Linked DNA regions of Homo sapiens. The protein of the gene in region 1 purifies or fractionates together with the protein of each later gene. This does not show direct contact. Each region holds a gene or a part of one and is shown on either strand. Other genes may lie near its edges.

What was found.
Region 2: the proteins of DOCK3 (region 1) and AIDA purify together in Homo sapiens (affinity purification with mass spectrometry; one large-scale study listed by BioGRID and IntAct). This does not show direct contact.
Region 3: the proteins of DOCK3 (region 1) and HS6ST3 purify together in Homo sapiens (affinity purification with mass spectrometry; one large-scale study listed by BioGRID and IntAct). This does not show direct contact.
Region 4: the proteins of DOCK3 (region 1) and NEDD9 purify together in Homo sapiens (co-immunoprecipitation; one study listed by IntAct). This does not show direct contact.
Region 5: the proteins of DOCK3 (region 1) and UBAP2L purify together in Homo sapiens (affinity purification with mass spectrometry; one large-scale study listed by BioGRID and IntAct). This does not show direct contact.
Region 6: the proteins of DOCK3 (region 1) and HS3ST4 purify together in Homo sapiens (affinity purification with mass spectrometry; one large-scale study listed by BioGRID and IntAct). This does not show direct contact.
Region 7: the proteins of DOCK3 (region 1) and DHCR7 purify together in Homo sapiens (affinity purification with mass spectrometry; one large-scale study listed by BioGRID and IntAct). This does not show direct contact.

What each region holds. Positions count from the first base shown.
Region 1 is NC_000003.12:51,377,569-51,381,863, forward strand, and holds part of DOCK3 (dedicator of cytokinesis protein 3), read left to right. Parts: exon of another isoform or gene 1-1,874; intron 1,875-1,880; coding exon of another isoform or gene 1,881-2,003; intron 2,004-2,556; coding exon 2,557-2,639; intron 2,640-3,481; coding exon 3,482-3,991; 3' UTR 3,992-4,295. UniProt on the Homo sapiens protein: Potential guanine nucleotide exchange factor (GEF). GEF proteins activate some small GTPases by exchanging bound GDP for free GTP.
Region 2 is NC_000001.11:222,677,489-222,681,897, reverse strand, and holds part of AIDA (axin interactor, dorsalization-associated protein), read left to right. Parts: intron 1-4,409. UniProt on the Homo sapiens protein: Acts as a ventralizing factor during embryogenesis. Inhibits axin-mediated JNK activation by binding axin and disrupting axin homodimerization. This in turn antagonizes a Wnt/beta-catenin-independent dorsalization pathway activated by AXIN/JNK-signaling.
Region 3 is NC_000013.11:96,088,351-96,093,266, forward strand, and holds the start of HS6ST3 (heparan-sulfate 6-O-sulfotransferase 3), read left to right. Parts: upstream 1-1,756; 5' UTR 1,757-2,512; coding exon 2,513-3,219; intron 3,220-4,916. UniProt on the Homo sapiens protein: 6-O-sulfation enzyme which catalyzes the transfer of sulfate from 3'-phosphoadenosine 5'-phosphosulfate (PAPS) to position 6 of the N-sulfoglucosamine residue (GlcNS) of heparan sulfate.
Region 4 is NC_000006.12:11,185,234-11,188,577, reverse strand, and holds part of NEDD9 (enhancer of filamentation 1), read left to right. Parts: intron 1-270; coding exon 271-360; intron 361-2,906; coding exon 2,907-3,344. UniProt on the Homo sapiens protein: Scaffolding protein which plays a central coordinating role for tyrosine-kinase-based signaling related to cell adhesion. As a focal adhesion protein, plays a role in embryonic fibroblast migration.
Region 5 is NC_000001.11:154,251,739-154,256,147, forward strand, and holds part of UBAP2L (ubiquitin-associated protein 2-like), read left to right. Parts: intron 1-2,161; coding exon 2,162-2,351; intron 2,352-3,097; coding exon 3,098-3,152; intron 3,153-3,413; coding exon 3,414-3,588; intron 3,589-3,944; coding exon 3,945-4,017; intron 4,018-4,409. UniProt on the Homo sapiens protein: Recruits the ubiquitination machinery to RNA polymerase II for polyubiquitination, removal and degradation, when the transcription-coupled nucleotide excision repair (TC-NER) machinery fails to resolve DNA damage.
Region 6 is NC_000016.10:26,131,965-26,136,373, forward strand, and holds part of HS3ST4 (heparan sulfate glucosamine 3-O-sulfotransferase 4), read left to right. Parts: intron 1-3,647; coding exon 3,648-4,284; 3' UTR 4,285-4,409.
Region 7 is NC_000011.10:71,437,488-71,441,896, reverse strand, and holds part of DHCR7 (7-dehydrocholesterol reductase), read left to right. Parts: intron 1-456; coding exon 457-670; intron 671-1,060; coding exon of another isoform or gene 1,061-1,111; intron 1,112-2,813; coding exon 2,814-3,018; intron 3,019-3,953; coding exon 3,954-4,085; coding exon of another isoform or gene 4,086-4,093; intron 4,094-4,409. UniProt on the Homo sapiens protein: Oxidoreductase that catalyzes the last step of the cholesterol synthesis pathway, which transforms cholesta-5,7-dien-3beta-ol (7-dehydrocholesterol,7-DHC) into cholesterol by reducing the C7-C8 double bond of its sterol core.

The DNA.
Region 1 (4,295 bases):
TTGGGATCACCCTTCTTTTCCTAGGATAAGTCATTCTGTATTAGCCTTCCCTCTAGCCCCAGTGCATTTATGCTACATGGCAAAGGTCTACTGGCCCCACTGCTCACAGACATCAGGCTGCAGGGCAAACTTGATGGCTTCTGGTTTATATGGAGTCACTCAGGCAGGCACCCTTTTGTAAACCATTAAAGCCCTGTAAGCCTTCTTCTCCCATAGCCTTCCTGCCCTAGAGCTCCTTTGAGCCCTTGTGGGTGAACATCTGCACCCCATAATTCTTCCAGGGCTAGGTGTGCATCTGAGATCCTGGGCTGTCAGAACCCCTTTAGGGAAGCCGCCCAGACCCATTTCTAAGCTTCCTATTCCCTGATATTTCTTTGGTGGCTTTTTATGGAGAAGGTGATTTTTTTGGCAGAGAGGGGAAGGTACAGGGAGCCTCAACACCAAGAAGCTCATGCTGCATCTTGTAGGGAGCATGGGTGAGTGGGCCTGTTCTTGGGATGGCTCAGGCTCTCTAAGGAGGCTATTTGGTGAAATCCACCTGATGCTCATCAGATGCAGAATTCTTTCCTCCTTTCAGGCAACAGCTAAGTGTCTTGCCTGCAACTCAATCACTGGCACACCCCTCCTTCCTGCCGCCAGCTATCAACCATACCAGGAGACGGGGCAATTCTCAGAACTGAGGCTGTTTAGACAGTGGAGTTTTACCCTGCGTTCTGCTGCAAGCTCACGCCAGTTCCTGCGCAATGAGGAAGAAGAGGATGATGGATGTCACAGTCTTATCCCTGGACAGCTGAGGGGGCCCAGCCCCTCTGGCCACATCCTTTTCAAAGGACAGACTCTAGCTCCTTCCCTTCCAAAGCCTGTCAGCTCCCATTAGGCCCTGAAATTCCCATCTCTGTGTCTAGGCCAGGAAGAAACCAAACCTCAGCCACCTCAGGCTCAATGTAGCTACCACGGCCTTAGAACAAATCCAGTGACAGCACCTGGATTGTGAGCCGCTTCTCTGCTGCTAATAGCCCAAAGGGGAGAGTTGCCTGGCTCCAACAGAGAAAGGACATATTTCTTTTTGCTGGTATTTGTTCTCTAGGAGGAGCTGGCCAAAAGAATTCACATGTCCACTGCTGCTTCTGCAGAGTGGCACCCTCAGACCCCAAGGTCCAGCCATCATTCCTCTCTCCTCCTGAAAAGTCTGTCATCCCAACTGTGGCTGAGGGGACAGTATTCTGGCAGTGGACTCCTTCTTTAACACAGAAGGGCACTCTGTGCTTCCCTTTTTCCTGGGCCCACTGCACCCCTGCATCCATGGCATGTGGGTGCTAGGAACTGGGGTTCTGTAGACGCCAAAGGGTACTCATCGGCTCCACAGCCCTCCCTCCTCCTGTTAGGAAGCAGTGGGTCCAGCTGGATCTGGGCTGCAGTTTCTTCCAACAGGTACCTGTCCTTGCTCCCTGCTTTTCCCACTGAGCCTGGGCAGTAGGAGAGCTGACTCTAGACTTTGGCAAGGAGCTCTATGTCCTGTGCTCTCTCTATATTCTCTCATTCTCATCTCTACTCTTCTGTCCTGTTTTCTCTTCTCCTCCTGGCAGATCCCAGAGGCTGCAGGCGTTCACTCCTTGCTGCACATTCAGCTATCTCATCCTGAATACTCTTTAGACATAAACTCACTCTGTTGCCCTCCTCTTAAGCAGCTTCAATCCCTGGCCACTCTCCCCTGTGGACCACAGTGCCTTGCTTGGCCAGCGTTTTTAGTTCCAGGTGCTGGCATGCCCCACATGTGTGCTGGATACGTGGTGCACACTGGAGAAGCCACAAGCTGTACTTCTCCCAGAGGGTGGCTCAAGAAGTAACCTCCCTTCATGCCATCTGTTTCCACCCTTCAGCTGTGCCAGCAGCCCCCAGCAGCTGGAGTCTGGATAGCGGAGCCCAAGAGGCCCAGCCCTTCCTGTCTGCCCATATGGGGCGCATCCTGGCCCCCCCAGTGCCTCCCCGAAGCCTGCTGCATGGTAAGAAGACCTCCAGCGGGTCCCCCGATAGTCCCTGGTCTCAGACTCTGCTCAAGGGCCACAGCAACAGCCATCTAAGCTGAGAAGATGGGCCATTCTCTGGGCCGACTCAGCCAAAGCCAAAACACCCCCACCACAGGAAGGATCCTGCTGGGCTTTGGGGTCAGTGAGGTTTCCGAGTACAGCAGGTTAGCTCAGGAAGGCCATCCCAACCAGAAGGCTGAAGACAATGGAATTGACTGTGCCAGGCACACTTCTCACCAGACTGTCTCATCGCCTAGCAGTGGGCTAGAGCTGCCGCTGCCTGAGGCCTGTTCCACAGACTCTGAAGCACTCAACTTCTCTGACTTCCTGTGTGGAGTGAGTTTCTTTTACCCCAGCAGCCTGTGTTTTGGAGAAGGCCAGTGTAAAGAGAGGTTTATCCATAGCCCTCAATGCTGAGGGGTCCCCAGGGGACTCTTCTCATGCCTGCCCAGTTGGCCCAGCAAGATGGTGCTGGCATGAAGTCTGTGCAGGGCCCCCAGCTGAGGCTCTGGTTCTGTTCCCTTTGCAGGTCATTACTCCCTACACTTTGACGCCTTCCACCACCCTCTGGGTGATACCCCCCCAGCCCTCCCTGCCCGGACCCTGCGCAAGGTAATGTACTGAAGCGGCAGCCCCACCAGGCTGTGAGATGAGTCATCTCGTCTGCTCTAGAACCACCCTTGGGGTCTACAGGAGGAACTGGAGCCCTCCCCTTCACCTCTCTCCCCAGCCTGGCAGAAGCTGGGGGTGGCCAGAGCCACACTTGAGCTGCAGGTGCACATTTGTGTCCTGCAGCAAATGTGATGGGGGCAGGGAGATCAGAGGGTCCTGGAGACAACAACACACAGTACCAAGAGTGTGTGGGCAGTGAGCACTGGGAAACCTGGGGGCTCTCAGCCAGCACCAAGGTATCAACACACTGTAGTTCGCTAGCTAAACAAATGTTCCTGTGGTGGATCAGAGAGCATTTCAAACTAGAATTCAGTAAAAGCAAGAACTTTATGAAAAACTCAGGAGAGTAAAATTTCCTACCTGTTAGCTTGTCTGCAAATTGGAAAAGACTGAGTCTATCACAGATTTTAGCAGCAGAATACATTCCTCTGGTCCACGGCCCACCAGGGTTCTTTCTGCCCCTCCTCAACAGGCCTGATGACCCAGCCTTTATGTCAGTATCCCAGAGCCACCGACGGCAGCCTGGGACCTGGGACCAGGGGGCACCAATGCCCAGCAGCCAGGGCAGGGCAATTTTTTGGCCACAGAAATGCAGATGATTCTGGAGTTCCACTGGCTTAGGGGTGGTGGGAGGAGCTGGGAGCTTGCTGCTGAAGAAACAAGAAACATGCTGTTGATGAGGGTTAAAGTTCATTCATAAGCAGGCTCTTGGTCTTCCTATGGCGGGCAAGTCAGCCTGTCTGGAGAGAGGGATTCTAACATGCCCACCCTTTCCTTCGCAGTCTCCTCTCCACCCTATCCCAGCCTCCCCCACAAGCCCCCAGTCAGGTCTGGACGGCAGCAACTCTACGCTGTCCGGCAGTGCCAGCAGCGGCGTGTCCTCCTTGAGTGAGAGTAACTTTGGGCACTCCTCGGAGGCCCCACCTCGCACTGACACCATGGACTCCATGCCAAGTCAGGCCTGGAATGCTGACGAAGATCTTGAGCCACCCTACCTCCCTGTCCACTACAGCCTCTCTGAGTCTGCCGTCCTGGACTCCATCAAGGCCCAGCCATGCCGAAGCCACTCAGCCCCAGGGTGCGTCATCCCTCAGGACCCCATGGACCCGCCTGCGCTGCCGCCCAAGCCCTACCACCCCCGCCTGCCGGCCCTGGAGCACGATGAGGGGGTGCTGCTGCGTGAAGAGACTGAGAGGCCTCGAGGCCTGCACCGCAAGGCTCCATTGCCTCCTGGGAGCGCTAAGGAGGAGCAGGCCCGCATGGCCTGGGAGCACGGCCGAGGGGAGCAGTGAGGGGCAACGAGGCGGCTGGGATGCCGCCCTCAGTAAGCAGCTTGCCAATCACTCCAGGTCTGAAAAGCAAGTCCCCCAGCCCCACCCCAGGGAGCCAGAGAGGCTTGCACTCAGGAGAGAACCACCCCCAAGTCTCCGTTCTACTGCCGTGAACTCATGTGTTGCCATGTACAGAGGCCACAGCAGCATGAAGGGTTGTGGCTTCCCTTTTTATTTTTTTACATTTCCATTTCTATGGGTTTTCCTTTCTTTCCTTTATGCAGTAGATGCTTTCTTCCTCCTGCAGTTCTGGACCATGTGGAGC
Region 2 (4,409 bases), on another chromosome or scaffold:
ATGTTCCTCCGCTTTTCTCTGTACCAGCTGTAGGAGGGAGAGTGGTACTGATTGCTGGACACCTTGGTGGTCATCTGGGGATTCACATGGCCAGCATGGACAGAGGACTTGCTTGCACAGTCCACATCCCCTCCCCATGGTGGCAGTGGCTATAACACACTCTTCTGAGAGCCTGCCCTGTTGCTAGGTTAGACACTTGTACAGTTTTCAAAACGTTCTTTTATTTTTCTTTTTTTTGAGACAGTCTCGCTCTGTCGCCCAGGCTGGAGTGCAGTGGTACAATTTCAGCTCACTGCAACCTCTGCCTCCCTGGTTCAAGCAATTCTCCTGCGTCAGCCTCCCAAGTAGCTTCGATTACAGTCATGCACTACCACACCGGCTCATTTTTGTATTTTTAGTGCAGGCAGAGTTTCACCATGTTGGCCAGGCTGATCTCAAACTCCTGACCTCAGGTAATCCACCCACCTTGGCCTCCCAAAGTGCTGGGATTACAGGTGTAAGCCACCATGCCCGGCCAATTTTCAAAACATTCTTGAGTGAACTGGTCTTTGTTGAATAAACTTAGCCATTTCTCTGATACCTAGAACCAGTTTTCATTTTATTTGTGAGAATTTTGATAGCAGCACTTCAGTGAAGAAAGCCATGAGTTGACAGTGTCAGCGTTTTCTGTTTGACACCACAGTGTACAGCCCAGGGCAGTTCCTCAGAGGTACACGTGAGGACAGGGCGTGAAATCCAGCTTGGCCTTTGCTTGTTTGGGGACTTCACAGCAGAAACAGTTTTCTTGAGTACACCATTCTTTATAGACCTTACAAATGCTATAGCATGTCATTTATTGGTAAAATTTTTAGACTCAATAGAGAAGCTTTTTTTTTATAGTTTATCACAAAACCTCTTCAGGATATGAAAAGTCATCTCTTGTGTCCACTTATTGCGCGGTTTGGGAATAGAGCCTTTTAAATTTCTTATACTATATCTTGTGCTAAAAACGTCTTGTAATTTCACATGCAGGCATTATGAGATCCTTGCCCACTGTGTGACTTTTCTTCCTCTGGGCATTAAGCTCTGCTACTAAGTAATTTCCTTTTTGAGCCTTTTTTAAGTGAACATTACTTTAGAAAAAAAAAAAGCTTTACTCTATTTTAAATGGCCATTAGGATATCAAAATAATCGGTGTCTTTACTTATCAATGGTTGTGACTTGTAGTTGCGATTTCTCGATTTTGTTGGATCCATTGCTGCATTGATAAAGTGTTTTTCACAGATGAGGCAACTTGGAAATTATCCATCCAGGTACAACCATATTAATAAGTAGGTCTCATCATTAAATGGACTTTTTTGTTTTTCCCAGTGCACTAGTGCAGTGAAATGATTCAGAAGCTTGAAATTCATTGTTTTTACTTAGGGAGAATTGTCTCTATGCTTAGGCTTAGAACCTTCCTCTCCTAGCTCATACCTCTTCTTTAGAAATCACATTGAATTGAAAAATTTCCTCCAGTTTTCTTTGCTACAAGTAGAGCATGTTTGCTTCAGCTGTTGGTGCATAAGGGAAGGTTGGGGCAGGTAAAGCTGAAGAGGCTGACGTCAGACTGCTGTATAGAGCTCATCAGCTACCAGTGGCTTCCCCTGTCTCCTGAAAAAAAAAATACTAAATGGACCAAGTCAAGTGAACATAATCTTAACTGCTTACTGCCATATGAGGCTCAAAGACCTATAATAAAATTGCTATAGGGGCTGCATAGTCTCTTTCCATCACTGTGAACCTGCATTGCTCAGTGTACAAAGCCCATTGCAGGGGCTGCAGATGGTGTAGTATTATCCTCGTATTTTATTGTCTTTAGTGCATATTTAAAGGCAGTGCATTGATAGAAATCACTCTTTTGCGTGGAGCTCCTAGCGAGTTCAGGGACACCCTGGGATTCCACAGAACCCAGGTTGAGAAATCTTGATTTAGACAGTTGTAGCCATACAGAGCTTTTCATATTTAGAAGTGTGAGGCAGAAATAATGCATCCCTTCCCAAAGATGTCCACATCCCAATCCTCAGAATCTGTGCATATGTTTCTTACATTACACGGCAACAGAGACTTTGCAGATGTGATTATGTGAAGGACCTTGAGATGGGGAGGTCATTTCACAGCTCCTGTGTAGGCTCTATGGACAATGAAGAAATGGCCAAATGAGGTGTGGTGGTTACAAGCATGGAATCCCGTGCCAAACTGCTATATGATTGTGGGCAGATTACTTAACTTTTCTGTCTTAGTTTTCACTTCTGAAAAAATGGGACACCTTGTTATAGGGTGCTATAGCACCTGTGTTATAGGGTTGTTGGGAGGATTAAATGAGTTAGTACATGTAAAGGATTAGAACAGTGCCTGGCACACCCTGACATGTTCTGTAAAAGTTGGCTGTTTATTATTTATGCAGCTTTTCCATATGGAAGAACATTTATTATTTCTGATCCTCACTTTAGATCTAACAGCAAATGATCTAGCTGGAAACACGCAGTTTTTCATGGCTCATGTATGATTTCTTTTCTTACTTCAGTTACAGTCTTCAAGTTTTATAAATGTAGTTACTTATTCTCATATTACTCTATACAGTTGAATGTGTTCATTCTTCTTTTAGAAATCTTGCTTTTAATACATTGCCTTGATTTTTAATTATTGTATGTTTTTATCTTTGATACACAAATATGTTAACTTTTTCATCTAACCCTGGAATGGTGTGGTATTATCCTAGTATTTTATCTTCTTTCGTGCATATTATATAAGGCAGTACATTGATATATGTTTTCAGGCCACATGTTTATAGAGCATAATAACCTCTAGAACTGTAAAATTCATTTATCATTCAACAAATGATAAAAGAGTTCTAAAACAAAGATCTCTTTATTACTAGTGAAAACAATACAAAAATGAACAGTTACTCATCCCGTCTTTCAGGATGCTCACCATGTAAGACAGAGCCAAAAAAAGTACATCATCATGGTTAGAGGTGGACACAGTATATTATGAGTGAACGAAAAAAGGACTGACAGAGTTTAGCAAAGGTAATCTAGCCAGAACTGAGACTCAAAGGGAGTGTAGGAGTTGACTAGGCAGGGAGAGAGCACATTAGAAACCACTGAGAAATACACCTTTCTCTATTACCTGTCGTCTTAATCACATAGCTTCAGCTGTTCCTTAGTAAAGATAAAACTACTGAACCTTCATGGTGGAGATGAAATGTTTTATGTTCTACCTTGAATTAGGGAAGAACTGAATAAATTAAGTATCTTTCCAGCTTGGAATCACTGCCTCCATATTACATTGTTAGAAATATATTTAGTAGTTAGATTAAACCTTATTATATTCTCAGGCAAAAAAAAAGTTTGTTGGTAAGGAAGAAAGAAATGTCAGCCTCATTATTTCAACTAAAAGATCTAGACAATTACAGGTTATGAAACTGATTCACCTAAAGGTAGAAGAATTTTTAATGTTTACTTGGGAGAAAATAGTCTATCATAAAAAGAACTTGTCTCTTTTGTCTGTCAGAAAACACCATAATCAAAATCAAAATGACAAACGACTAATATTCTTAATATATAAAGAAAATTTTAAGTTGTGACAACAAAGACCCCAAACACATTAGAAAATTGGGCAAAAGACATGAACAGATAGTACACACACACACACACACACACACACACACACACACCCCAAGATATACAAATAGCTCTTAAATGTATTAGAAGATACTCAACTTTACATATGATAAAAGACATGCAGATGCCTTATATGGCAGTTCCCTGTTGCTGAGACAACAGGGAAATGGGCTCATTTATCACTGGTGGGAATAGAAAGTGGTAATAGTCCCTTTAAAGGAGAGTTCAGCAATAGCTCAGCAACAACAAAAATATACAATTTTTCTTAGTTTAGCAATCCTGTTCCTAGGAATTTACTCTGAAGATACACCTCCAATAATGTGTAAAAAATTTTTTTTTAAATACTTACATATACACCAGGTTCTCTATTGAGGTGTTTTTGGTAATAGTAATATATTAGAAACAACCTAACTGCCATACGAAGATTGGCTGAATAAATAGCCAATACATGGACTATTACAGAAAATAATTAGGAAAATCTCCATGAACTATTGAGTGATTTTTTTTTTCAGAATATATTGTTAAATCAGCAAGATACATATATCAAGGTAATTCACATTAGCAGATTAAGGAGAAGAATCCCATGATCTCAAGAGATGCAGAAAAATTTTTCAATTACATTCTAATTTCTTTCATGATTTTAAAACTTTCTTAGCAGACCAAGAACAGAACATTCTTAATCTGATAAAAGGTAGCTGTAATGACATTTAGCGCCTCAGTCATATTTAATGATAAAATGGAAAGCTTTCCTTTTCAGATCAGGAA
Region 3 (4,916 bases), on another chromosome or scaffold:
TTCCTCATCTCTGAAATGGGATATTATACTTCTCTTATCTCCTTAGAGTGTTGTTCTGAGAAGCAAATGAAATAATGGCTAGGAGAGTGCTTTCCACTATACAAACTACCACTAGCATTCTGGTTATCCATTTTGGTAGCTAATAAGGTGATGTTTATCCATGTGATATCAAGCAATTTTATAGGAAATGAGAAGCTTCTTCAATAAGGTGATATAAAAAGGTATAATGATGTTTTACTTAACTAAAGCAGAGGTATGTGTATATTAAGCAGACACATTCAGAAAATAATTGTTGGGCTTTTGTTTTATCACAGTTTCTTGCTGTGGAGTGGGGTGTGATGCCATTAATAGGATTTCAAACTTAAGTGAGAGAAAAAGAAATAGAATCAAATAAGCTTTAAAGAAGCTGATTCATCTCACCCAACACCTTTTCTACTGATATAGCCTCCTACATATTAGGAAAGGCAAGGGTTGGAGTTGTTTAAAGAGTTGAAAACGGGAAAGGAAATAGAGGAGGGAAGTTTTATTGAGAAGAATTCCACCTGTCTAAACAAGGAAAATAGTATCCTATGGGCAAACTTTAGCATCCCTGAAAGAGCCCTGGATCTTCACTGATGGCTGCAGAGGGGACACCCTGATAAATAGATGACATCGACAGAGTGTCTCAGGAAGAAACAAGTGCATGGATTCATAAAAAGGCCAGATGGGACGGTGGGCTGCTATGAAATATTATAGCACACCTGTGGAATACGGTAGTGTAGCTGGGAGGGACACATTGGTCTGGGCCAGGGAATCACACTGCATTGTCCTCACACATTGCCTTTAACACATTGCCACTCTCCACTCGGAAAATAGGTCGAGCAGGTCTAGGGACTGTGGTAGGGCAGTTACAACAATTTGATCGTATATCTTTTCACTATCTGAAAAACAGAAGTTGTTATTGAGCAAAGATTTAGTTCTGGGGTAATACTAAATGCAACATCTAGATGTTTGAAAAATAAAGTTTCCAAAAAACATCTGCATACAAATTAGGGCTTATGAAATATAGGCAAGCTTAAGTGTTATCTTCCACCATTGTTGGGAAGGAATAAATCTTGAACATTTAGGAGTTCAACGTCTATTAGTAGAATGATTTTTTTAGGAGGTGATCCCTAAACTCCTTTTTATGTTCTAAGTACTGCATGGTTGAGGGCTGGACTGTCTAGTGCTGAAAGAAAGTGTGTATTGAACATAGAGCCTGATACACAGTTAGGCGCTTAATGGTTAATTGATGCTGGTTGAATACAGTTGTATAGTTGGACGCACCAAGTTTGTTATTAAGGGAGGACCACCATAAAACTCGAACACCAGTTAGAATGTCTTGGGTAGAAATTCACAGCAGTCTGGAGCCACGTTCCCCTGCTGAGAAGGGAACTGCCAACCCGTGTAAAGTCTGGTCTAGTGAGTGTTCCCGGGAGTGTGCAGGTGTTATTCCTGAAAATAAGGCCGGCCACTACCAGACAGAGAAGCTGCCCATTTTAAGGTGTCAGATCAACGCCAGCGACGCTTACCTCGGGGCCTCCTCTCGCCCCACCTTTGCCTTTCTGCCAAATCTCTCCTTGCTCCCGGCCGAAGGGATTCCCACCCCCAGCTGCCTCCTCCGAGCCCCGCGGAGCAGCGGACTCCTCCCCTGGAAACTCCTCCGGGGCTGGGGGAGGCTTTGGCGCATGCTCCGTACCTAGGGCAGGTTTTTGCTGCGGGTAGCAGGGCTCCTGTCACACCGGCTGGCGGGTTGTGGCGGTGCCAGCCTGTGTGTGCGAGTGTGTCTGCGTGCCTGCGCCTGGGCGGACAGCCCGGAGCGGCAGTGCGACTCGCCGGGAGAGGCGTCTCCGCAGAGGCGCCTCGCCCGCTGCCGCTGCGCTGCGGGGGCCGCTCTGCAAACTTGCGGCGAGCGCCGTCAGCCCTCGCGGCTCCACAGCCCCGCGACCTGCCGGCAAAGGCGCCGGGCGCGCGTGCCGGGCGCGGTGCCCGCGGCCGGCCGGGGCGGCGGGAGCGGGCCGCGCCTTCGCCCTTGGCCGGCGCCCTGGCGAGCCTCATGCAGCCCCGGCGCTCGCGGCCGCAGCTACCCGGCTGCCCGGCTGCGCGCGGCAGGTCCAGGACCCGAACCCCGCTCCCCAGCGCCTGAGCGCCTGCAAGCCGCCGGCGGGATGCCGCGCGTCGCCTGAGAGAGCCGCGCCGGGGCGGGAGCAGGGAGCGGGCCGGCCCGGGCGCACCCGGGAGCGCAGGGCGCCCCACGCCGCAGCCGCAGCCGAGCGCGCCGGCGCCCGCCTCCCCCGCCCGGCTCGCAGGCCCCGGCTCCTCAAGCCCCGAGGGCCGCGGGGCCGCCAGCCAGCCACACGCCTCGGCGTCAGGGGCATGGAGGAACGGCGGGCTCCGAGCCGCGCCCCGGAGTCCGCGAAACTTCCGAGCGGGCGCCCGTCCGCCCTGCCGCCGCCGCCGCCGCCGCTTCGCCTGCCGGCCTGAGAGCGGGACCATGGATGAAAGGTTCAACAAGTGGCTGCTGACGCCGGTGCTCACTCTCCTCTTCGTGGTCATCATGTACCAGTACGTGTCCCCCTCCTGCACCAGCTCCTGCACCAACTTCGGGGAGCAGCCCCGCGCGGGGGAGGCCGGCCCGCCCGCCGTCCCGGGTCCCGCCCGCCGGGCTCAGGCGCCGCCGGAGGAGTGGGAGCGGCGGCCCCAGTTGCCCCCGCCGCCCCGGGGGCCCCCCGAGGGACCTCGGGGGGCCGCGGCGCCGGAGGAGGAGGACGAGGAGCCCGGAGACCCCCGGGAGGGGGAGGAAGAGGAGGAGGAAGACGAGCCGGACCCCGAGGCCCCGGAAAACGGCTCCCTGCCCCGATTCGTGCCGCGCTTCAACTTCAGCCTGAAGGACCTGACCCGCTTCGTGGATTTCAACATCAAAGGGCGCGACGTGATCGTGTTCCTCCACATCCAGAAGACGGGGGGCACCACTTTCGGCCGGCACCTGGTGAAGAACATCCGGCTGGAGCAGCCTTGTAGCTGCAAAGCGGGTCAGAAGAAGTGCACCTGCCACCGGCCTGGCAAGAAGGAGACGTGGCTCTTCTCCCGCTTCTCCACCGGCTGGAGCTGCGGGCTGCACGCCGACTGGACGGAGCTCACCAACTGCGTGCCGGCCATCATGGAGAAGAAGGACTGTCCCCGCAACCACAGCCACACCAGGTACTGTCGCCCGCTGGGTCTCTGTTCTTCCCCCCCACCCCCCATCCCTCTTCCTCAGTCCTGACCCAGAGCGACCCCGCGCTCCCTGCCCCTGCCGATGGTTTCCTGGCGTCTTCAGCGGTTGGCGCCGTGGCTTTGGGGAGGGATGAGAAACCTCCGGATAGTGCCTAGGTCCTGAACTCGTTCTTCCCCCAGCCCCCACCGCTTCCCGCCACCCCTCTGCCTTCACCCTCTAAGATGTGCGGAGCCACCGTGTGGATCCTGCCTGTTGCCTAGCACGGCCTGGCCTCCCTCCCAGTGGACGCTGGAAAAACGCCCTGAAATGGGGAGCGGATCGCGGTCTGGGTTAGACCAGCCTTGTAGAATTGTGAACTTAAGTTTTGGGAGTGTAAACCCAAACCCAGGAAAAGGAAGGGGGAGTAGAGAGGCAAGGCACGAGTTTTCCAGGCGTGGTGAAGCTGGAGACGAGTATAATCCCTCCCTAAGTGGCTTTTGGATGGCAGCTCAGGAAACAGTCAATCCTCTTGATGCCACTTTGAAGACACACGTGCAAATTCCTGTTCTACCGCGATAGATAACTCTAATTCTGGAGATGGTCTTTGTTGCCCAGCAGTGCCAGGATTTGGACTCACCTGTCCTCAGAAAGATTTCCATGCTCTTCCTAGGCCATTACATCAACTTATTCCAAAAGTATGTTAAATGCCTACAGGGTGCCTGACAGTGTGCTAGGTGTTAAGTGAGTATAAAGATAACATAACATCCCTTGTTTTCAGGATGGAATGACATTCTTGATCCCCTGCCTCCCAGCCTTAAAAAACAGTAATACAGTGGAGAATTAAGAAAGTTAAAAATCTTAATAGCCAATGAAACTGCTTACATTATTAACATGCTTTGAGAGAGACATGGGCTTAATAATTTGGTTGAAGGTCCTTTCTGCCCATTGCAATTTGAAGATTAATCTGACATGCTTGCTAAAGGACGAAAATATTAAAAGCTTGGAACACTAGTTCATTGAAGTTTTTATCTTAAAGGTTTCAAACAATTTGGTATGAGGAAATAGGAATTTAAAAGCTCAAGCTGATTATGTTGATATCCCAGATAGCTTTTGCATTTGACGTTATAGAAAAGCTTCATTTACTGGAAGCTACCCAGATTCTGGAATTCACCACCACTGAAGCATCTAATTCTACTTCATTTCTCCAAGAATGAGCAAAATTTCATTATGAGATTTTTTACTCTGGCAATTCTTCAGATACTTTCCTTCCTCCCTGCTCCTTTTCCTGTTTCCTGCACATTAGTTAGAATAAGAAACTGGATTTGGAATGAGGGAATTAGGCTCTTCTCTTAGTATATTTTACGGATCCTTTGCTTTTAAATATTTTTAATAGTGTATTACTTTGGATCTTGCCACTCTCTTTTAGCTTAAAACAGTTTTTCAATTAAGTATTACTTCCAAACCTCCTAACACATAACACTATTACTTCAGTGAGACACAATTTCTGCTACATTTCATCCAACCTTGTACTCCCTGTTTAGATTAATTCCTGATTGACCTCAAAGGGTTTGCTAGACTGCTTCCCAGCTTCCATTTCACTAAAACTGGAGTCTTATTGATTATCACATAGAAATGTCTGATTACTCTTCAGTAGGGGCTGGCATTATTTTTGTCCCAGGTTCATAAAAGTCTTAGTAAATAG
Region 4 (3,344 bases), on another chromosome or scaffold:
TAAAAAGAACATTATATATGAGATTTGAAGGGAATCATGAGTAGCTCTCCGAAAATTTTAAGGTGCCCCAGAAAGCTGGCACCCTATATGGCAATGGGCTTTATTTTTCTGCCACCCCTGTCGTCTAGGGTTCACAGTGCCTCACTGGGCATTTGAGATGTTGCCAAGGCAGTGGAAAATAAAGAGTATTTACTCATCCGTCAATGAAATTGTTAGCATAAGTGAATCACAGTGATGACATAATATGTTCTTTATGTTGAAAATTAACAGGGTAAGGAGGAGTTTGAGAGGCAACAGAAAGAGCTATTGGAAAAAGAGAATATCATGAAACAGAACAAGATGCAGCTGGAACATCATCAGGTAAGTTCAATCAGAGCAAAAACTGCTTGGCATTGGAAAGATTTCCCACCTAGCACTAAGGAAAGGTATCACTTCAAGAGATTATGATTTTGATTCTTCCAGCTCACTGGCAGGAATCAGCTCCAAAGCACGGAATGGGGTTTAAAAGCAAAGAGAAGGTTTATGACCTTGTTAGTTCAACTGGGTGTACCTGGGTTCCATCTAAACGGCAATTTTTTTAAAGGCTAAACCTGCATATCTAACATATGAGGACTATTTGGGTTAAGGCATTTGGTCTCAAGAAACAAGACCCATTCAAGCTAGCCTAAGCAAGCAGGTTTATAGTAAAGCCACAGTAGGGGAATTCAGTAACAGAAAGTGAAGATAGAGCCAGGTCTGGGGAGAACTAGAACTGTAAATTATCTCTCCTTCTTGTAGTTCCTTTGCTTCTTTCTATCAGTCTACTTCACTCTCACCTATTTTCTGGTTTTCTCTAATTATCTACTCATTTGGCTCCCCTGTAACTTTGCAGAACCCATAAATGGCCACTCAGAACTTCTATAGATGGCTTTTCATCTCGGCTTCCTCTTCCGATGGTTAGCTCCCTTCTCTTGTTCATCAGATTCCCAAGAAAGAGTCTGATTGGGCCACGTTGATTGGGCCATTTCTCTTTCTCTCTCTCTCTCTCTCTTTCTGTCTCTACCTCGCTATTTGTCTCTCTTTCGCCAGCAACACAAGCCTATGGTTTGCCTGGCCTTGGTCCAATCTAAAGGTAGGAGAGCAGAATTCAATGTTTTCAACATATATCCAGGCCTATCTACTGAGGACTTTGGGCAGGGCATGTTCATTCAAAAGCTGGGTATGAGTAGGGGAGATAATGACGACTATTGCTAGAACAAGGGCATACAAATAAAGAGAGATGGATTGAGGATTTATTTACAAGCCTTTTAAGATGAAATGAAGTGAAATGGCATGTAATGACATGAAATGGCATGCTATATTTAGGAAATCTGAGTTCTAATCCTTTCTGGCCAACCAACTATGTCAAGTCAGGTAACCTCCCCGAGCTTCAGTTACTTCCCTATAAAATGGGAAAGTACCCCCCCCATCTAATGACATGATATATTGATGAACATATTTGCATAAAGCCTAAGATATATAAAATATAATCCATTATGATTAAATACCTTGGAATATCACCTTGTACCTATTTATGTTTGCCTTGGCATCTGGCAAGGTAAGACTGCAGGGCTTTGGGGAACTTGTAGAAACCATAGCAATCGCTAAGAAGAAAACAGATTCTAGAAAAGTAAAGCTGTTGAAGGCTGGGCACGGTGGCTCACACCTGTAATCCCAGCACTTTGGGAGGCCGAGACGGGCGGATCATGAGGTCAGGAGATCGAGACCATCCTGGCTAACACAATGAAACCCCGTCTCACTAAAAATACAAAAAATTAGCCAGGCATGGTGGCGGGCGCCTGTAGTCCCAGCTACTTGGGAGGCTGAGGCAGGAGAATGGTGTGAACCTGGGAGGCGGAGCTTGCAGTGAGCCAAGATCGTGCCACTGCACTCCAGCCTGGGTGACAGAGCAAGACTCTGTCTCAAAAAAAAAGAAAAGTAAAGTAAAGCTGGCTGTGCATCTCTCAGAGAAGCTGGGGAAGCTGGGTGAGGTGATCACTGCTCCAGCTCATCCCTACGTCCAGGTGGGAGATTAACTGAGTCTGAAGCTCAGGTCACAGATAGTCCTTATCTGCAGAAGAGAGGTCTCTCTTGAGTCTTAGTGGAATCCCTAGAAATTATTATAATTGCAATTTAAATAATACACCATTTGGTAGCAATGAGGAAAGAAGGAAGAAAGCCAGCACCTGATGCATCTGACTCTGGGTAAAACCCCCTTCTTTTAACAGCTCTGGGGGACTAAATATTATGATGCACAATTCCCATTCAGACTGCCTTAGAAACTTTTTTTCCTTAAGTGCTCATATATTTATATGCATTAATCTTCCTGTAGTGCTGGATCATAACATGTCTATCAATCTTGACAGAAAGAGTAGGATAAACAGAAAGGGGTCATGAATGGTCATTTCATCTGAGCATCCTGAGATAGTCGAGGCTTTCTCCGAGAAGGAGCAAACTGTCAGTGACTTACTTGACAAGGAGGTCACTACATTTGGTTTTCCCTTGCCACCCCTCAACATTAATAAACATTTACATAGAGCCTACTACATACCAAACTATTATAAGCATTTTGTAAACGTTAACTCATTTAACCTCCATAAAGGTGTAGGTAACAGGGCTGCGGTTTAAACACTATGCTACCTTCTAGCCAGAGGGTACAAGAGACCAGTAGTCCAATCATAGAAGGTCTGAGCTTGAGGATCATCTTTCCCAACGTCTACATTTTACAATTTAGGAAAGCAAGGCAGCTTGACCCAGGCTTTACAGCTCACATGCATCTGACAGTTACTAGCGACTAAAATCCCTGTCTTTTAACTCCAAGGCCTAGTGAATTTCCATTGCAACACACTCCCTTGCTCTAATGAGATCTGCTTTCGTCTTCCTTGCAGCTGAGCCAGTTCCAGCTGTTGGAACAAGAGATTACAAAGCCCGTGGAGAATGACATCTCGAAGTGGAAGCCCTCTCAGAGCCTACCCACCACAAACAGTGGCGTGAGTGCTCAGGATCGGCAGTTGCTGTGCTTCTACTATGACCAATGTGAGACCCATTTCATTTCCCTTCTCAACGCCATTGACGCACTCTTCAGTTGTGTCAGCTCAGCCCAGCCCCCGCGAATCTTCGTGGCACACAGCAAGTTTGTCATCCTCAGTGCACACAAACTGGTGTTCATTGGAGACACGCTGACACGGCAGGTGACTGCCCAGGACATTCGCAACAAAGTCATGAACTCCAGCAACCAGCTCTGCGAGCAGCTCAAGACCATAGTCATGGCAACCAAGATGGCCGCCCTCCATTACCCCAGCACCACGGCCCTGCAGGAAATGGTG
Region 5 (4,409 bases), on another chromosome or scaffold:
GCCAAGCCCCTCTGCATGGCTGAGGGGGAAAGTAGTCAGTCATAGCATTTTTAGTGCTTTAAAATATTGTTATTAGGGTTATCTGTAACTAAACAGGTAGAAATATGCCCCTTAGGGGCTGGGTGTGATGGCTGACACTTATAATCCCAGCACTTTGGGTGGCCAAGGCAGGAGGATTGCTTGAGGCCAGGAGTTCAAGACCAGCCTGGGCAACATAATGAGTCCCTGTCTCTACAAAAAAAATTTTTTTTTAAACACAGAGTTTCACTCTGTTGCTTAGGCTGGAATGCAGTGGTGCGATCTCGGCTTACTGCAACCTCTGCCACCCGGGTTCAAGCGATTCTCCTGCCTCAGCCTCCCGAGTAGCTGGGATTACAGGTGCCCACCACCATAACCAGCAAATTTTTGTATTTTTTAGTAGAGATGGTGTTTTACCATGTTGGCCAGGCTGGTCTAGAACTCATGACCTCAAGCGATCTACCCACCTCGGCCTCCCAAAGTGCTGGGATTACAGGGGTGAGCAACCGTGCCCAGCCCAGATTTTTTTTTTTTTTTTTTTTTTAGATGGAGTTTTGCTCTGTTGCCAGGCTGGAGTGCAGTGGTGTGATCTCGGCTCACTGTAACCTCTGCCTCCCAGGTTCTAGCAATTCTCCTGCCTCAGCTTCCTGAGTAGCTGAGATTACTGGAATGTGCCACCACATCCGGCTAATTTTTGTATTTTTAGTAGAGACAGGGTTTCACCATGTTGGCCAGGCTGGTCTTGAACTCCTGACCTCGGGTGATCTGCCCTCCTCGGCCTCCCAAAGGACTGGGATTACAGTCATGAGGCACCACGCCTGGCTCAGAGTTTTGCTCTTGTTGCCCAGGCTGAAGTGCAATGGTGCAATCTCCGCTCACTGCAACCTCTGCCTCCCAGGTTTAAGCAATTCTCCTGCCTCAGCCTCCCTAGTAGCTGGAATTACAGGCATGCACCACCATGCCCAGCTAATTTTGTATTTTTAGTAGACATGGGGTTTCACCATGTTGTTCAGGCCAGTCTTGAACTCCTGAATGGAGATGATCTGCCCACCTTGGCCTCCAAAAGTGCTGGGATTACAGGCGTGAGCCACCACACCCGGCCCAAATCTTATATGGTTCTTGAGGGAGCCTAGAATTCAGAATTCTCTAAAATGAGTGTGAACAAAAGATGGCTTTTCCTGTGCTTAGGGTCCATGTTATAATGTATAGAAGGGGCCAAGAGTAATGTATCCTGTATACCGACATTTAGCCACTTTTTTATTTTGAGACAGAGTCTTGCTCTTGTCACACAGGCTGGAGTGCAATGGCACGATCTCAGCTCACTGCAACCTCTGCCTCCCAGGTTCAAGTGATTCTCCTGCCTCAGCCTCCTGAGTAGCTGGGATTACAGGCGCCCACCACCATGCCTGGCTATTTTTTGTATTTTTAGTAGAGACAAGGTTTCGCCATGTTGGCCAGGCTGGTCTCGATCTCCTGACCTTGTAATCTGCCCACCTTGGCTTCCCAAAGTGCTGGGATTACAGGCATGAGCCACGGCTTCCGGGTCCACTTTTTCTTATAACAGCAAAATGTAGGGGGGAGCCAAGGGACTTTTCTCTTCCTTGAAGACTTGAAGATGTTTTTAAGATTTTTTTTTTTTTTTTTTTGAGATGGAGTCTCGCTCTGTCACCCAGGCTGGAGTGCAGTGGCTTGATCTCGGCTCACTGCAAGCTGCGCCTCCCGGGTTCATGCCAGTCTCCTGCCTACTCCCAAGTAGCTGGGACTACAGGTGCCCGCCACCATGCCCGGCTAATTTTTTTGTATTTTTAGTAGAGACCATGTTAGCCAGGATGGTCTTGATCTCCTGACCTCGTGATCCGCCCGCCTCGACCTTCCAAAGTGCTGGGATTACAGGCGTGAGCCACTGCGCCCGGCCTAGATGTTTTTTTAAGATTAATTCTTAATTCAGATCTCTGGCGCTATAGAAGGTAGGGATTCCTAGTGTTATCAGGAGGAAATTTTGGTAGATTCTTCTATTTGTTGCTGAAAAATTTCTTCTTGATTCAAATCAAGTTATTCCACTAGTAGATCTCCACGATTTCCTTAGTATGAGTAGATATGCTCTATTTTGTTTCTCTGAGATTTTTCTCTTCGTTACTCACAGTGAATCATCCTCTACAATTTCATCTAACCAGAGTCAGGAGTCTGGTTATCAGAGCGGCCCAATTCAGTCGACAACCTATACCTCCCAAAATAATGCTCAGGGCCCTCTTTATGAACAGAGATCCACACAGACTCGGCGGTACCCCAGCTCCATCTCTTCATCACCCCAAAAGGACCTGACTCAGGCAAAGGTAGTGGCTTCATGAACCCTTGGGAATTGGTTAGGAGAATAGTGGGCAAAAATTCCTTAAATATTAGTGTTTTACTTTTCAGCAAGTGGTGCTAAGAAACTTTGGAAGTAGTGATTGAGAATTTGAAAAAGGCACACATCTGTGGCTAGTGAATTAAAAGTTCTTATCAGCAAACCCGGAGACTGAAGAGCCAGGAAACCATTCTCTTTGTACTAAAAATTCATTGCCTCTAGTAGAATCAGTCTCAAGTGCCTGTCCTGTCTTCTGGGAAGATGTGATTGCCAGATTTCTGGGTGCGTGTCAGTAGACCTCACCTTGCTAAGTCCTGGCATGGTGAGGGAGACAGCATGTGCCAGAGGTGATGTGGAGTGAGTGTCAGATGCAGCCAGCGGAATAGGTGGTGTGGCTGAACTGTTGTACTTACCCTTCCCCAAAAATCACTGGATGTGGACTTTGGGCCTTTCCTCTATCTGTTTTAGGTTTGGGGTGTCTTCAACAATTTGTAGGGTTTCCTTCTTTTGCTTTTGGTCACACAGTGTTGGTATATCTCAGTTTTGTTGTTTAATTTTTGTTCCTATTTTGGTTTTTTGGATAGTCTACATTGTATTAATATTAATCCTTTTGGTTAATTTACAGAGTTTCTCCTAAAGATTTGTTGACCAAAATAAAGCTGCATCAGTGCTAACTTTCCTCATTCACATGAGTTTGTCTGTTTCTTGCTCTTCTGTTTTTTTTTTTTTTACCAGAATGGCTTCAGTTCTGTGCAGGCCACGCAGTTACAGACCACACAATCTGTTGAAGGTGAGTGTTCTTCAGGCTTTTCCCCTCCTAAGTTTCTGGTTTTCTATCTTAAAATGGTGATAATCCATTAGTTCCCTTCACTGGACAATTGAGACCCATGCTGTGTAATTCTCAGCATTAAAGAAAAAAGATTCTACCTAATATAGTCCATTGTTAAATAACTCATCCTTTTGTCTTTGGAACTGCCTTGGACTGTGGTCACCTCTCTATAGACATTCCCTTTTTTCTGATGAGAGGAATTCCTTTCTTCTAAATTTCTAGGTGCTACAGGCTCTGCAGTGAAATCTGATTCACCTTCCACTTCTAGCATCCCCCCTCTCAATGAAACGGTATCTGCAGCTTCCTTACTGACGACAACCAATCAGCATTCATCCTCCTTGGGTGGCTTGAGCCACAGTGAGGAGATTCCAAATACTACCACCACACAACACAGCAGGTGATTTGGGGTGAGGATGGAGGTTGGGGTTGGTGAATAGCAATAACAGAGCTCTCTGGTCCTTATTACTCCCTTGACCTGGCAGAGACCACATTAGCCCTGCTTTTGTCGTAAGTGGGTGACCTAAGAACTGTGGGAAGTGAAGACAGAGGAGGCTTGTTTTAATTTTCCCCTTTCAACATCCACTTTTGCTTTAACTGCTCTCTACCCCTGGCTGGCCATTGTGCTTAACATATGATCTCAGACCTCCTTGGTGTCCCATATTATGTCTTATTTCCTTGTTATGTTCTTGACTGAAGCTCCAGGTCACGTAACTATAGCACTATGGCTGATGGCAGCCTCTTTTTTTCTGACAGCACGTTATCTACGCAGCAGAATACCCTTTCATCATCAACATCTTCTGGGCGCACTTCGACATCCACTCTTTTGGTAAGTGTGATGCTGAGAGGGATGTGTGGTTTTCTTACACTTAGAACTGTCCAACTGTAAGATTGTCCCAAGAGAGAATTATTGAAAATTTCTTCATGAGGTGGCAAAATAATTGATTTGAGGTTGCAGGAAAAGGAGTAAAGGGATGTTAGGAAGCCAAGAGAGGCAGAAGAATCCCTAAACATTGAGCTCTGGGTCATTCCTAAAAGCCCTGAAAGTGACTTTCTGATTTTTTTCCCCTACTGAATATATAGTTGGGCTTTGTATGCTTTAATAAATTCTGGAAGAACATACCTTTCCAACTGGTAGAGCTGTTCTCTTTCCTTGGTCTTGGGTATGCCCAAGTTCTGAAAAGAATCAGTGCAAGGCTGGACATTTTTGTGAAAGTAGAT
Region 6 (4,409 bases), on another chromosome or scaffold:
ATACTTAGTGAGACCTTGGAACAAATCTTTAGCTTCTGGTCCTGTTTCCTTCTCTGTAAAACTGGAGTAATAATGATGCCTGCTCTGTTGATTTAAATACTTCATTATATGATGCTATAAAGAGCTCTTTATGTATCAGCTGTGGGAGCTAGACTGGTAGCTTAGTGGAGGAAGGGACTGCATCCGTTTTGTTTACTGTTACATTACCCATAGTGATCATTTATGGAATGAATGAAAGAATGAATGAATGACTATAACTGATTCAGAATCAGTTTGAGGAAAGGGAGCTTTGTCCTTTATAGATTTCAAGCAACTACTGGATATCTTCTCACTGACAAAATAACTGGATAACTCATGCCACATTGGTTGAATCATGGCTCAATGAGATAGTCTCCCCATGTGTGCCCCAAATGCAAAAACTCTCCTAAAGTATATACTTTTCACATTCATGGGTAGCATGAAGGTCAAAGCTATTTAGTCTCCTCTGCTCCCCTCTACTGTCTCCAAAGCCTTCTGCAATGCCTTCTCTTATTTCCTTTTGCAACAAGCAGTAAGTTAGGCACACATCTACTCTGCTAAATCTACCAGCTTATATGTTGGGTACCATTTTGTCCCAGATACTTCAGATAAAAGACTCAAGATCCACAAAGATCTTGACAGATCGTCAATCAGCTGAAGTAAAGGAGATGAATTTGAATGGGGCTCAGTGCAAAGAGAAGCATTGAGGTCTAAGAAGGCAAAGGTGAAGAATGGATGAAAAGAAAAGTTGAGCAGCTGCTCCTACACTAAAGAAAAATGCAACAAAATAATGTGTTTAGTTTTGTGTGTCAAAAGTACATCAGGGGAACTAAAATCTGGAAAAGGCCGTATAAAAATAGCTATTTTCAGGTGATGTGTTTTTGCATCAAGATTTATCTAATATTTTTATAATATGATATGAGTTGCATAATGAAACAAGGGAATATATCTCTCCACTTGAAATAAAAATAAGATGGTCAGTATATTTCCTATACTCAGGCTGAGCTAATGGTAGCTCCCTTGTTGGACACCAGCCTCCAGATCCGGAAGTGCAATTGATGATATTGGCATGAATTAGAGTATACTTTTTTCTAGATCAGTTCCTTAGATACCATGTTTTCCTGCCTTTTCCATTTGGTCAAATGAAGTATTTTTTTTTTCCTTGCCCTTCTGTAAGAATTACTGTAAGAATAATCCTGATTTTGGCCAGCTGGCTTAAGTTAAAAAAATTCTGACATTGAACCGGCATGATCCCAAGTGATTTACCTGCATTATGACATTTAATCTTCATTAAAATCCTATGAGGCATGGCCTTTTATTAACCCTATTTTCTTTGATGAAACATTAAGGGTCAAAATGGGTTAAGTAACTTCATCAAGGTAGCATGGGTAATCAGAACTCTTAATTCAGGCAAATCTGATTCCCAGGGGCTGCATTCCTTAGCCCTGTTCCTCCAAATTAGACAAATTGATCTGTTGAGAACCAAACAGACACACACAAAGGCATTCAAACTACTTTGGAGAATATGTCACTCCAAGATGAGCATGGTTGTTTATGGCCAGGGCTATTGCTTTGATCTGAAAACACCACGCTGCCCAACCATTATACTAACAACATCCAGCTCTTTGTGAATTTCTCTACGAGGCAAATTCCTCTTGCCTCATAAAAGTGCTTGCCGAGATAGCTCAAAACCCAGTTGCAATTAATTATTGACAGAGCATGTGAATTAGAGATAAAAGAAAAGTCATTCTTTCTCCACACACGCGATAGTAAATAAATTTAATTATGGTAGGAGAAGCTAGGGGATCTTTGTCTGTATTAAGTTTTATTAGCTAAGACATTTAAAAGCATGTCATCATAACAAAGAGGTCTTGTGTAATCCTAAATGCACCACTTTGGTGCAAGGCTCAGAAGTGAATAGATTTAATGGAGCACATGGTGGCAGATGGCCTGCTGTACTGACAGGTATTGAACAGGTTTATCTTCAATTAACTTTGGTCTACATATGCCTGTAGCAAATTGACTGTATAATGGCATTCTAAGCTTAATTTTATCATTGATAAGCCTGCCACATTGAGATTAGGGGAAAATGGCATCAAACCCCTTTAATATTAATATCTTGGAGCTCCCAAATAAGATAAGGCTACTCTGGAGGCAAACTCGGATGGAGGAATGGGAGTGGAGGAGCAGCCTTAGCAAAGGAACCAAGAGATACTGACCCTGGTATGGGATCTGTCAGTGGCTTTCTGGGCAATTTTGGGAGCAAAGAAAGAATAAAATCCCATATATTGAGCCATACCTATGCTAGATCTTTCATCTTATATGTCATTTTCCTCTCAACTGAATTTTCTTTTCTTTTCTTTTCTTTTCTTTTCTTTTCTTTTTTTTTTTTTTGATTGAGATGGAGTCTCACTCTGTCACCCAGACTGGAGTGCAGTGGCACAATCTCAGCTCACTGCAACCTCTGCCTCCTGGGTCCAAGTGATTTTCCTGCCTCAGCCTCCCAAGTAGCTGGGACTGCAGGCGCGTGCCACCATGCCCGGCTAATTTTTGTATTTTAGTAGTGATGGGGTTTCACCATATTGGCCAGGCTGGTCTTGAACTCCTGACCTTGTGATCTGCCTTCCTCAGCCTCCCAAAGTGCTGGGATTTGAGGTAGGTTTTAGGATTTTACAAATGAGGATAATAAGGCTCGAAGATATAATTCAATTTGCTGAGGTCACAAAGCCTGTCTGATTTCCATGTTTATTCCCTGTCCCTGGGCTTCGGTTTTCTCATTTGCACAATAATACCTTTGGACCAAGTCAGGGATCAGCAGACTCTTTCTTAAAGGAATAAGGAGTAAATACATTAGGCTTTGGGCCATATGGCCTCTGTCTTACCTCCTCAGCTCTGCTGTTTTACTGTAAAAGCAGCCTAGATGAATATGTAAATGAATGAATGTGGCTGTGTTCCAATGGAAGTTTATTTATAAACATTGAAATTTGAATTCTATATAATTTTCATGCATCACAAAATATTATTATTATCTTTTTGGTTTTTTTTTCAACAACAATTCAGTGATTACAAATCATTCTTATCTGTGAGTTAGACGAAAATAGGAGGCAGGAGGTAGTTTGCCAATCCTGGACTAGATAAGCTTTGAGGTCTTGTTGAGCTCAAAGATTTTCTAAAAACTACTATAACAATAATAATTTCTTTAATTTATTGAACTCTTACACATGCCAGCTTCATTGCTCAATGCTTTTTGAGCATTATCTCCCTTAATCCTTATACTACAGTGTGAAGTCAGTGCTATCATTATCTCTGTTTCAGGGATTATACAACTAATACGTAGAGAAATCAAGGGTGTATCTAGGTTAAACATAACTGGTAAGAGGTAGAATAGCCATTTAAACCTAGGGATATATAAGGGAGAGAATGTATATGCCTTGTGTTGCCTTTTCTGATAATACGTAGCCAGGGTAAGACTATAGTCAGGAGATATAGGTAAGAAGAACTTGCAAGAGTTTATCAATTTTATTTGGTGGTTCCAAACTAGGTTGTTTATATCACACATTTTGTGCAAAGAAGTTCAGATATTTCTGGACAGGAATAACCATTCTCTTCCTTTTTCCTCCCTCTCCTAGAAATGTGATGCCCAAGACTTTGGATGGGCAAATAACCATGGAGAAGACTCCAAGTTACTTTGTGACAAATGAGGCTCCCAAGCGCATTCACTCCATGGCCAAGGACATCAAACTGATTGTGGTGGTGAGAAACCCCGTGACCAGGGCCATCTCTGACTACACGCAGACACTGTCAAAGAAACCCGAGATCCCCACCTTTGAGGTGCTGGCCTTCAAAAACCGGACCCTCGGGCTGATCGATGCTTCCTGGAGTGCCATTCGAATAGGGATCTATGCGCTGCATCTGGAAAACTGGCTCCAGTATTTCCCCCTCTCCCAGATCCTCTTTGTCAGTGGTGAGCGACTCATTGTGGACCCCGCCGGGGAAATGGCCAAAGTACAGGATTTTCTAGGCCTCAAACGTGTTGTGACTGAGAAGCATTTCTATTTCAACAAAACCAAGGGGTTCCCTTGCCTAAAGAAGCCAGAAGACAGCAGTGCCCCGAGGTGCTTAGGCAAGAGCAAAGGTCGGACTCATCCTCGCATTGACCCAGATGTCATCCACAGACTGAGGAAATTCTACAAACCCTTCAACTTGATGTTTTACCAAATGACTGGTCAAGATTTTCAGTGGGAACAGGAAGAGGGTGATAAATGAGGCTAGAGAGGCAGAGGAAGGCTAGTCAATAAGCTAAGGAGGCTCCTTGCCTGAGTCCTTGAATACCCCAGCTTCTGCAGCTTCACTTGCTGGAGTGCCAAGTAGATCTCCTCCTCCTTCATGCA
Region 7 (4,409 bases), on another chromosome or scaffold:
GAGGAGCCTGGCTTTGTGCCTCTCACGTGGGTGCAGACTGGAACCGCATCCCAACTCTGCCCCCAGAAGCTCCCTGTTTTGAGGGGTGGATGGGCTGAGGTGCTCCCCAACAATTACAGAGGGGGCCAGGCATACCACAGGGGCATCCTCACTTGCTTCTGCCCCTCAGCCCTGACCTCCCTATCAGACTGCACACCTGTCACTCAGCCTATGGCCAGTTAACGAGATGCAGAACCAAAGGATGGACTCAGCCTCCCCTCCCTCTTCCTAGGAGCAGGTAGTTCCTTGGCCAAGGGTATAGGGGCCTCAGAGATGGTTCCTGGGGCCCCAGATGAGGGTCCGCAGCAGCAGAGGCCCAGAAAGTGACCAGGGCCCCCGCCAGGCATGCTTCAGCCCAGCCAAGCTCCTCACTGCGGGTTGGGAAAGCGCCTTCATTTCTGAATCCTTCATCTGCAGGGGTTGTGAACAAGTATCAGATCAATGGCCTGCAAGCCTGGCTCCTCACGCACCTGCTCTGGTTTGCAAACGCTCATCTCCTGTCCTGGTTCTCGCCCACCATCATCTTCGACAACTGGATCCCACTGCTGTGGTGCGCCAACATCCTTGGCTATGCCGTCTCCACCTTCGCCATGGTCAAGGGCTACTTCTTCCCCACCAGCGCCAGAGACTGGTATGTTCTTAGCAGCGGGTCCAGCCTGATGTAGAAAGTGCAAACTTCACCCCTGGCCTTTCTTGCTGCCTGGGGCAGGTGGTTGTAAAGCCCTGAGCACTGAGAATCCGTGGAAGAGGAGGAGGGGGATGGAACTTGCTTCACCCTGGGGAACATCCTTTCTGAATGTTTGGTGGCTTCTCCAGCCTTGGCAAGAATGCAGCTGAAGATGGCCAGGTCAGCTGTGGTGGCCAAGTCATTGCCTTTAGGGCTGGCGTGGGGGTAAGGAAGCCAGGAAAAACTTCTGGCTTGGGGCACAGGCAGCCCATTGCCTCTTTCTTTGGATAAGCTGGTGAGGCCCAAAACAACCTTAGTGAAGAGTCTTATTGTCCCTGTGGCTTTAATTAACAGCTTCCCAGGAGAGCCCTGCTGGCTTGTACCCATTCCCATGGCTGGACAGTGGTGAGCCACTCATCTCTGTCCACTCATCCATTCACCTGCCCATCTCCCCACCCACCCATCCACCCCCCTACCCATTCATCTACCTACTCACCCATCATCCACCTACCCATTGCCCCATCCCATTCACCCACCCACCAATGCATCATCCATCCACCTATCCATCACCCACATCCACCCACCCATCATCCATCCATCTACCCTCCCATCACCCATTCATCCATCTGCCCATCCACCTACCCACCCACCTACACATCTAGCCACACACCCATCCACCTGCCCATCTCCCCATCCTTCCACCTACCCACCCACCCATCCATCATCCATCTCATCCACCTGCCCATCCACCCTCCACCCCGTCTGTCTACCCACCCGTCATCTATTTGTCCATCCACCTATCCACCTACCCACCCACCTACACATCTAGCCACCCACCCATCCACCTGCCCGTCATCCATCCATTTACCCATCCATCCACTCTATCAGGGCCTGTAATGGCATGTGCCGAGGGGAAGGAATGCATCATCTCATCCAGGTCAACCTCCTGCCTGAGCAATGTCCGCAGCTCCTGACCGGCCTCCCTTACCCTCTCAGGCCCTCCTAGCCTGCTCCCTCTGGCTTCCTGGGTGACACTTCTGAACACACCTGATCCCTGCCACCCTGCACCCCAGCTCAACCCTGCCTATCATATATCCATCCACCTGCTCCTCTCCCCATCCCATTCATCCATCCTTCCACCCACTCACCCTGTTATCTATCCATCCATCCATCATAAACCAATGTTTGGGGGGTTCTCTTGTGGACAGTTGTAGGCAGTGGGACTTACAGTTCAGTTTGGGGGATCCAAAAAACCCCAGTGTGGTTTACACCTAGGCTCTTGGGAAATGTTTCTGGAGGATGACACTTTGTAGCTTGTGTGTTATCAGATAACGAGGCTGGCCTTCAATGGCTCCTGGAAATCATCCTCGCTACCTTATAATCATGTAGACTTTGTGTGTTTTGCTTCTTTCTACTTACCCTACCTGAGGGAACTGGACATGAAAATAGGATTTTCTAGTTAACACAGAAATTGTTGTGTGTCCTCAGCCAGCTAGACCTAGTCAGGGTCTCCACAGGGGTTATCTCGGCTGATGCTCTGGCCCTCCGGGGATTGGGGGATTCAGGTAACTGGTCAAAGAACTTGTCCTGCACATGCTGGAAGCCGGGCCCAGGGTGCGTTTGTCATTCTCTACGTTGGCGTGATTTATAATGTCACTCACCCATGAGGGCCCACGTGCCCTGCGTCGGCTTCAAACCGTGTGCTTGGGCCCCAGAACGTAATCTCAGTGCAATCAAGCCAGTTCTTCAGCTCACCTGTGCCATGCGTCAAGGGCATCTGGAGAAGGGTAGAGAGAAACCCAGGTACCAGCCCAGGGCCGGTCTCCCACCCTTCCCGGGTGCAGAGCAGGTGCCCCTGGGCTTCTGCCTAAGGAAGTCTCTGCTGAGCAGCAGCTGAATGCAAAGCAAAGTGAATGAGGGCGCCAGGAACCAGCCGACAAGCATTCCAGCCGTGGGGGTCCCAGCGGCTCATGGCCAGCTTCTGCCTGCGCCGTCTCACGTTACCCTTTAGGACCCTGGGCCAGTGCTGGGCTCTCGCTAAGTAAGGTGGCTTCATCTTGTGAGATATGCTCATCCACTAAATGTATCTTTTATTTATATTTTTAAGCAAATTCACAGGCAATTTCTTTTACAACTACATGATGGGCATCGAGTTTAACCCTCGGATCGGGAAGTGGTTTGACTTCAAGCTGTTCTTCAATGGGCGCCCCGGGATCGTCGCCTGGACCCTCATCAACCTGTCCTTCGCAGCGAAGCAGCGGGAGCTCCACAGCCATGTGACCAATGCCATGGTCCTGGTCAACGTCCTGCAGGTGCCTGTCATGGCTGGAGAGGGTGAAACGCCGATGCCGGCAGGCTCTGGGGGAACCCGCAAGCCAGAGCGTATTCCCATGACCTTAATCTACTGCTTGTAAAAGAGAGTCAGCTGCCCTCCCCAGGTGTCACCAGGAAGCAGCCGGCGAGCACTTGGTGAAGGAAGCCATCCTTGGGTGCCTGTCTCTGCCAGCCCTGGGAGGGGAGGAGGCAGGTTCTACGCAGCCAGGCGTGGTCCAGGAAGGTCTCCCTTGGGGATTACACCTGGGTAGAATCTGGGGGTGTGTGGGAGTTAACCTGGTAGAGTGGAGGCAAGAGTGCATGCTCCAGGAACCCCCTGTAGGGAGAGAGGGTGGCAAGTCTGGGACACTCAGAAACATCCCGCATCCTGACCAGAGAGCGTTCAGGAGCTCAGAGCCAGGTGAGGCTGGAGGCCTCATGGAAGTCTTCCTCTTTATCTTAAAAGCAGCAAGACCCAGAAAGTGTGTGCTGAGCTGGGGTGCAGGGTGGCAGCGATCAGGTGCATTCGGAAGCGTCACCCAGGGAGCCAGCGGGAGCTGGCTAGGAGAACCCGAGAGGGTGAGGGAGGCCTGTCAGGAGCTGTGGACGTTGCTCGGGCAGGAGGTTGACCTGGATGGGATGAATGTATCCCTTCCCCTTGGCACGCGCCATTGCAAGCCCTGAGAACCTGGGCTGGGAGAGATGCCAGGGCCATGGGCTCGGGGTGGTTCTGAGGACAAGGAAGCCCTTAGCCCTGCCCATGACCCAGGCAGGAACAGCCCCAGCCGCAGGGAAGGAACAGCCCCAGCATTGAGGAAGTTGCTGAGCAGCTCCCGAGCACCCCCTGCTGCATCTGCGTGGAGTGTGATTTCCCCGAGGTCCATGGGGGCCCCAGGAGGGCCGGGGGTGGTCAGCGGCTGCTTCTGTCTTGCAGGCCATCTACGTGATTGACTTCTTCTGGAACGAAACCTGGTACCTGAAGACCATTGACATCTGCCATGACCACTTCGGGTGGTACCTGGGCTGGGGCGACTGTGTCTGGCTGCCTTATCTTTACACGCTGCAGGTGAGGAGGTGGGCAGAGCTGGCCCAGCGGGGCATTTGGCAGACACATGCTAAGCTTTCTCCTTGCAGAAGCGTCTGTCCTTGGGGGCACCAAAGCTGCCCCCTGTTTCTAGGAAGAAGGGAAGGCCTCGTGTATTAGCCAGCTCAGCCAGCTTGGGCCAGCAGCCAGGGAGGTGGCCTTGAGTATGTCCCTAACATCTGCAAAGTAGGGCAGATGCCGGCTCAGGGCTGGATGGGGCAGTGGAGGTGGAGGTGGGTCAGTGCGGGCACTGGCAGGAGGGGTCCTCTTCATTCCTGCCTCCTAGGATGTGCTGGGCACTGGGGC